Linked DNA regions of Homo sapiens: region 2 is linked to region 1. Evidence: fine-mapped expression QTL. A gene starts in region 1. The other region holds a variant in brackets. All regions are shown on one strand. Distances are from middle to middle.

The links.
Region 2: its variant is fine-mapped to the expression of LRRC1 in lymphoblastoid cells (GTEx, PIP 0.94).

Annotation. Positions count from the first base shown.
Region 1 is chr6:53,792,968-53,797,497 of GRCh38, reverse strand. LRRC1 (leucine rich repeat containing 1) reads right to left here and starts at 2,493. Exons shown (of 14, transcript NM_018214.5): 1 at 2,083-2,493. The coding sequence starts at 2,241. LOC124901333 (a long non-coding RNA gene) reads left to right here and starts at 3,823. Exons shown (of 5, transcript XR_007059619.1): 1 at 3,823-3,957; 2 at 4,149-4,215. RefSeq lists an enhancer at 1,709-2,421 and silencers at 2,388-2,627, 3,673-3,802.
Region 2 is chr6:53,832,646-53,836,645 of GRCh38, reverse strand. All of the region lies in intron 1 of LRRC1 (leucine rich repeat containing 1), which reads right to left. Among named protein-coding and RNA genes, the nearest start is that of LRRC1, 40 kb to the right of the region's middle. The variant C/T (reference allele first, on the strand shown) is at 1,873.

The DNA of each region.
Region 1 (4,530 bases):
CAGAGGTGAGACAACAGATAGCCCAAGGAAAGAATGGAAGGGATGGAACAGATATCTATGTTTGCAAGGTGGTTCTCATGTCTGGCATGTACACACCCAGGCACCAAGACACACAATAAGTCAGGGAGAAGTAGATTTTACACAACCTAAAAACTTTAATACTAATTTAACAGCTGTTAGAGCAATAATAATCCATTAGCAAGATCACCTGTAACCTTTGAAAAGCTTGTTTATTTACCATATTTACAGAGTGCCATCAGACTATATTTTGAGATTCTGACAAGTTTCCATTTAGGATCACAGAAAGACCTGACATTTCGGCTTGGCATGGGAAATTATGTAATTTCCCATGCCAAGCTGAATTCCCCAACATTACAGGAAAACCCACAAACCCTGCAGAAGGGAGTGAAAAGCCAATCCAGTCAAAGGAAATCTTCCAGTTCTACAAAAGAAAACAAAAAAACAAATACCACAAAGAGCAATGAATCATTTCTAGTGAATAACTTTTCACTCCATCTTCAATAATGTCATCCTGAAGCCCCTGAAAACTATTAAATTACATATTCTATATTCCTGGTGATATCACTGCCTAAAATTACACAACTTAAAGCAGTGAGGGAGCTGACGACTGGTAAGAAATCTTCAAGGACGTAAAAGGCCAGAAAAAAATCATGTGTTTGAAAATGCCTGCGAAATAATAAACGCCTGAGGGAACTTGATGGCTTTGCTGCTTCTAAGCTAAATAAAGCCTGGGGGGCTTTGCAAAGGTCCTAGTGAGGATAATCTCCATGATTACACAGAGCAAACATCCAATCAATTCCACATGAACCCAGGAAAGTTAATCCAAGAAGAACACCACCACTTAAAATATTGAGAAAAACACACAGTTCTTATTGTTTAAATGCTCCATCAGCGCTGGAGAACGTATCAGGTCATTCTAACAAGTCAGAACACTTGACTAGTGTTTCTGTGACAATGATTTGGCTTGTGTTAACTAAAGGGCAACAAGAAGTTTGCGTTCCAAAGCTCAGGCCTAAAACAGGTCCAATCCCCGACTGCCAGCAGTCTCCCTACTTCCTGCACACCTTTGGATTATTGCACACCGACTTCCTGCACACACCTGGGTTTGAGACACCTTCCCCGAGGGGTTACTCTAGCTAAGTTCCCGAGGCAAGCTTGAAAGAAGTTCGCTGTACCCCTACTCTCGGTCAAAGCACCATCAGCACATGTCGCTTGACAAGTTCGGCGGCAATGGAGTGATCAATTTACATAAACAACTCTGAAGAGATAACGCATCACTGCAAGGAGAGAAAGTCAGCAGGACGACTGTGCCCGCTCCGGGAAAGGCGGCTGCAAGGCTGGCCCGCGGGCAGAGCCTCCGCTGACGTTCACCGCAGCTCCCACCACGCAACAGGTCCACGTAGGCAAGGCCCGGGCGGCCGGCATCTGGGCACCTGCCCCTAGCGCTCCAGGCCCAGCTCTCCCCTGCGCCCATCTCGCGTCCACCCCCGCAGCCACCGCAGGCCAGCCGGCCAAGCCCACCCGCGATAAAGCACGGAGCACATTCCTCATTCCTCCCAAGATGCCGAGATAGTGCGGCCCGCTTGAGCGCTGCCCAGGTCACAAGGTCCTCCGGGACATGCCTTGACTAAAGGAGAGGCGCGCCCGGCCCTTGGTGGGGGAACGACCCCGGGGAGTGGAGGGGGGGAGGATGCAGTGCTCTGTAGCTTCCAGATGGAAACAGCCCGAATCACCCGGCTTCTCACCTGACCGGGCACAAGTGCCAGGTGTCAGTACCTAGCATGGATCTAAGTTACTTAACAGTCCAGAACGCTTCTCCAATAGCACGAGCCCCAGTGACTACGCGCAAAATATCCGGTCACTTTGAATAAAATGAAAAGGAACTTTTACTGGGAAAGGATGGAAGTAAAGAGACAGGGGGAGAAAGAAGCAGGTGAATGCATAAAAGAGGGAAGGTTCCTTCACGCCGGACCCGGAGATGGAAGAGGGGACGAGAGAGGATGGGAGCGGAAGGGACAGCAGACGAGCGGGCAGAGCGCTCAGGTGAGGCCGGACCCTTACCTCGGGCAGCTCGCGGAGCTGGTTGGCGTCCAGCAGCAGCTCCTCCAGGCTCCGGGCATAGCGGTAGATCTCCTCGGGGACGTAGACCAGCGAGCAGTGGCGCTTGTCGATGCTCTCCACATGACGGTTGCACCGCCACAGGGGGATGCAGTGGAACATCGCCGCCCCCGCCGCCGCCTAGCCGGGTCCCGAGCGGCGGAGACCCGGGCTCCGAGCCCGCTCTGGCCGGCGGCTCCGCTCAGTCCGCTGCCCTCTCCGCGCTCGTTGTTGGCTCTTGGGTTAGCTCGCTTCTCGCGCCGGGCTTCGCGGTCGGAAGTGCTTCAAGGAACCTGGAGCGGGAGCCCCTGCCCCGTCCCTGTACCCCCGCCCGCCAGCCGGTGCCTCCACTCCCACCCGCCAGTCGCCGTCGCCGCCCCCGCCGCCGCGCGGAGCTTCCTACTCGCAGCCGCCGCGCGGACTGAGCATGCGCGCCAGTGGGTGCGCGCCGAGGGCGTTTCCCGGCCCGAGGGATGCTCCGCTCCGGGTTTTCCCGGCGACCTGCATCCAGAGAGGGTCGACTGACCTGCGGGCCGGCTGCTGGCGGTCTGCTTACTCCGGCAAAGACGGGGGCGCATCGGGCCGTTTGAGGAAGGCAGACTGTGAAAGGACTTGGGACAAAGATGAGGCGGAGTAGAGGCGGCCTGAGCAGAGCAGAACAACTTTGATATTTAGTTTTATTTAACTCGCACTCCTCTCCTTGCTCCCCTTCCCCAAAACAACTTTCTCTTCCGGGGTCACACAGGACCGCCCCAAAGCGTACCTTGCGCGCCGGGGGCGCCAGGCGCTACTGGATTCGGTGTAGTTTTGAGGTGTTTGCACCACCCTCGCTGCTGCTTTCGTGGCTGCCCGTGTGCCCGCTGCTCACGGCTGCCCCAGAAGTGTGAGCTGGCCGCGCCCGGCCCTCTGGTCCTCGGGCACCGCCTGCAGGCTTTGTAACTTGGGAGCACATCTCTGGTGATCATGGTTTATGCAGTGAGTGATAGTAAATCCTCCTCCCTGTACCAGCAAAGGCATAGGAGTCTGAGAGTCTGCGAGATTCTCATAGATGTGGTTGCACCTGGCAAGGAGCCCAGCTGCAGAAATAAGCAGGCAAACGCGAGTTTCTGAGCCAGTTCCAGCCCGGCCCAGATGTTGGCCCCTGACAACTAGCTGTGGCTGGTGCGGAGGGAGGAGCGAGGGAAGAGGGGCAGATCGAGGCTGCCAGGTGAGCATCCTCCATACAGCTCCTGCTTTTCTGCTACAACCCCAGTCCCGTCCAGCCCGGATGACCGGGGAGGCTCACTATTGGGTTATAACAACCATTCCCTCGCCCCGACTCATTCCTGCGGACCACGGCCGGAATCCTGAACTGCCCCTCTTTGCCTGTAACTGTTTGCAACACAGTCCCCATCTCCGAATAACCAAATTTTCTCCTTTAATGAAGGGTTGCTAAAGTCAAGGTCAATCACAATGATGAATCATTTCCTTGGGGGCTTCTCTGATTCCCCACCCGGCCGCCCCTTCGTTCCACACTTTCCCTTTCAAGCATACTCAAACTCCAGGTTTCCACCTGCGGCCGCTGCCACGCTGGCTCTCCCACACTCACTCCCGCCCTCCAGCTGCTATAGCTAAAATCTGGAGCCACGGAGTTCACTTTTCTATAGAAGACAAAGCTGAGCATGCTCAGTGGCCAAGGCAAAGTTTGGTCGGAAACTAGTTTTTGCATTAGACTCTCCATGGGCTCCATAGACTCTCCTGTACCTTACGACTAGGCACAGGAGCGTTTCCCCGGTGAAATGGAGAAGAGGACACTTGGTCTTTTCAACTTTACTAGGAGGGCTCCTTTCTTCCCAGTCCGTAAGGAGGGGTCTGACTTTCATTTCCACCCCAGCATTATCACCTTAACTCTCATTCCAGTCAATCCCGAAACTCCGTTGCCCTACCCACTTCACCCTTCTTTTGTTTGTCCTGATTTGATTCCTGCGTTCTCACAGAGGGCTACCTGGACTTTGAACCTCCACCCCCCTTTCTACATTCTTGCATTCCAGAAACATATGAAGCTCATTTCTGCCACCCTTCCTAGAAAACTGGTTCCTGACAGAGACATGTGGAAAGGTAAGTAAGTCCCTGTCTTCAAGTTTTCCAACTGCTTTTTAAAAAAAAAATTAAAGAAGGCTAGTTCCCTCCATTTAAAATAATGTGATTTCCAGAGGTTATCACACTAGATTATTTTAACGAACACCAAATGTATTTTAAAGACGTGTCCAGTCTTTTAAAAATTCAGACCTCAATAAGCATTCCTTGTGTGCCTCTCCATGATGCTTCAGCTTCTCTGTGTTATTATTTTTGTATCACCTTAATCCGAAAGAGATTATGACCTCTTAAACAACAGATACTGTCTCACTTGCTTTGTAGATCTGGGAAGCTGCC
Region 2 (4,000 bases), 39 kb before region 1:
AAAACTTTTTAAAGTTTTAGACTACTTACTAATTAGGAAGGAAAATACCAATTACCACTAAGGACATCCAATTATTTAATTCATCAAAGTTAATAATATTAAAGAGCAATGGCATTAGATCTAGAGGAGGAGGGAGAAGCGACCATTATAACCAAAACAACAATGATAATGATAATAATACAGCAGTTAACCTCTACTGAGGGACACTATATGTTTGGCAGTAAGCCAAACACTTTACATGGATTATACTCTTTAATCATCTCAAGGTTGCCGCAATACTGATACCTACGCATATAAGTTAGCTTTTACTGAATAACAAACCATCCCAAATTTGGTGGCTCAAAACTACATGGATTTTTATTCCTCACGTTTCTGTGCGTTGGTTAGGTAATTCCGCTGCTGCTCTCATCTGGACTCATGCATCTACATTTGGCTAGTGTCAGAAGGGCTGGAAGATCCATGCTGGCCTCACTGCTATGTCTAGCAGTTAGTGCCAGCTGCCAGCTAGAGCTCCTCTGTGCTCCACAAGGCCTCTGTCCTCCTCCCTTAAGCTAGAGTGGCTTTCTTATATGAAGCTCCCAGAGAGCATTCAAAAAGGGCAACGGCAAAAGCTGCAAGGACTCTTGGGGCCTAAGCTTGAAATTTGCCTGATGTTGTCCTTTCTGCCAATGGAAATTGGTCAAAGCAAGTCACAAAGTCGGCCCATATTTAAGGGAGTAGAGAAATCATCTTCATTTATAGATGGAAGGAATGGCAAAAATCATGTTAAAAAGAGGGAGAGGGTGGGAAAAAATTGGTAGATTAAATGAGGTAGAAACCTCAGATATGCCACAGAACACACATGAAAACTGGGTAGATTATGTACAAAATTCTATGGTTGATTATAGAGTAATGACTTTTCTAAAGCAAATCAGAAGAGAAAATAATACACTGAATAAACTTTGGCTAAGATTCTTTATATATGAAAAGGATATAGACAAAAAGAAAAGGCCAAGAAATAGTCACAGAATACTGAAAGAACTAGTTTGGTTAAAGCAGATAATTCAAACAATCATATCCCACATCCAGAATTTGAGTTTGAAAGGGTTTTAGCAAACACTCATAAATAAGTATTAGTTAAATAAGCGTGAATGAGACACTTTTTGTCAGTGTGTTTGGTAGAGGTGTGGAATAGGAATATCTCTGGGTGAATCACTTAACTTCTCTGGTCCTCTTGTTTTCTTGTGAAAAAATAGCATTAAATGATAAAGGGCTCTTTGTAGCTCTAAAAATTATAGAATTGCATTTCAAAATACCTTCCCTGTGCCAAAAGAAAAATGAAAATCCTGTTAGCACACAATATAACATTAAGCATGAAGTTAAAATGCATAAAATTACAGAAAGTAGATTAGCAGTTGCCTAGGAAATGGAAAACGATGGCTAAAGGATATGGGGTTTCTTTTGGGTGATGAAAATATTCTAAAATTGATTGCGGTAATGGTTGCACAACTGTGACTTTATTAAAAACCAGAGAATTGCGCACTTGGGTGAATTGTATGGTATGTGAATTATATCTTAATAAAGATGTCAAAAATGCACAGAATTGGTAGACATTAATGAAGAAGGAATTCCTATTAGTAAGAAAAGACTGGGCTGGGGATACACAGATACTTTTATTTATTTATTTTTATTATTATTATTTTTTGAGACGGAGTCTCGCTCTGTCGCCCAGGCTGGAGTGCAGTGGCATGATCTCGGCTCACTGCAACCTCCGCCTCCCGGGTTCACACCATTCTCCTGCCTCAGCGTCCCGAGTAGCTGGGACTACCGGTGTGTGCCACCATTTTTTGTATGTTTAGTAGAGATGGGGTTTCACCATGTTAGCCAGGATGG[C/T]CTCGATCTCCTGACCTCGTGATCCGCCTGCCTCGGCCTCCCAAAGTGCTGGTATTATAGGCACAGATACTTTTATTTAACTGAATCTCTATAACCAAGTGAGGTAGAGTTTTTTTTATCTCTAGTTAACAGATAAGGAAACTGAAGACCAGCAACTTTACTGGCTTCCCTGATACTGCAGACCAGTTAATAATATTCTTTAGGAAAAATTCCCAAACAGAGCCATGCTGGAGGATCACACAGTAGAAATCCTCAGATAACTACCTGCTAAACAAAAAACACTGGTGTGAAACTACATTCTAATCAGCTAACCAAAACTAAGTCATGCTGGAGGTGGAGGCGGGAGGGTAAGCTAGGAAAGAAATAACTACTAAAATTACCAATGCTGTCAGATTCCATCTTGATTGACAAGTTGCGAGCGGAAGAAAAGAGCATGCTAATGAAACCTACATGTGAGAGCACATAAGTGGGGTTGCTGCCAAACCAATCCAGACAGAGAGAGTAGACATGCAAGAAATCTAGACAGATAAGAATGAATCAACTTCTAGAGGATCAGGGGCACAGAGATATAACAAACATCCCGATAAAGCCTTGGGCAAGGGAAGGCTGAAAGAAACAGGGAAAGCAGAAGACAAAATTTGATACAAGTTTATAATACGATACAGCAAAAGGGCATACAAAGAAAAAAGGCTCAGCTAGGTCTAGTTTCTGAAGGCAATAGGGGAGGTATCACAGAGCAGCAGGACAGTCCTGGAGAAACTCAAAAGGATGACACTGTTCAACTGGCAATTAGAATTTTACTAATGCTGAACAATTTTCATAGACACAGAATGGAATTCCAGAGAATCACAAATACTTAAGAATTTGAAATACTGATTGACAAAATAGTTTATATTCATGTACTAATAGGCCAGGTGATAGACAATAAATATGAAATAAGATAAAGGGTTCAATCTCTAAATAAAACTAACCATTTATTCTATAATCTGAAGAGATATTTCTCCCTGCCCATCTATTTGCCCAGAAGACAAATACATGAAAGAGATCACAGGGGGAAAAAAGGCCTCTCCTGCTCTAAAATATAATTTTTAATAGGTTCATGTTTCAGAGGCACAAGTACCCTTTTCTTTATGCAACAAAGGAAAGAGTGCTGACTCCTTTCCTTGCATGACCAAATTTCAGAGAAGCAAATTAGTTTCCACTGAGTGTTAGCATGTGTGTGCTTGAGCATTTATAATAAAGATGCTTACATTTATTTTGTTCAAAATATTTATCTTTCTAATTTTTCTGGCCTCCCCTAATACCTTTATCCTCTCATTTGCTGGTATATTTTAATGTTTCCAAGGTGCTTTCATGCATTATTAAGCTGTCACCATTAATGATCCTAAACAAAGATATAAATGCCCCAAGGTTGCCCCCCATAATTAAAATAGCTCAAGGGTGAATCACTTTGAAAACCAAGAAACCAGGCATGTTTTCTGTATTGTGCTATGATCAGAAGGGTGGATCAGACTGGTAGTGGCAACTGCAATCACTTGGAGAAAAGAAGCTTTTACTAAAAGCAAAATGGATCAGGACAGCATTACTTTACTGGTAACTTGACTGAAGGGATGAGCTGTTGACATGGGAGGACCAGACTGATGGTGCAGATGGAGAACTGATGAGAGCTGGACCAAGCAGGGTTGGTACCTCAGAGGGAAAGATCAACTATGAGGAGAGAAAAAAGATATCGAACTGAAACTAACAATAGGGGAATGATTAAACACAGGATGGCAAATGCATACAATGAACTATTATATGGCCATTAAAAATCATGTTTCTGGAGAATATTTAATAATATAATAAACACTATGTTTTAGGGTTAAGGGAAAAAAGAAATGTAAAATTGTATATATGTACAGTATAAGTCCTATTTTATTAAAAAATGTAATAGAAATTTTAGGGAGAAAAACTGTTTTAAAAAGGTAAATCTGCTGAGAAAAAAAGGAACTTAGGCCAGATGACAGAGGATCATTCAACTTCTTGGTATTGATGTTTTGTACGACAGAAAATCAAAGATTCTACTCATCTAGAAAGGGTTGTTTTTCCTGCACATTTTAACCAAATGTATCATCAAGTAAAACTTGAA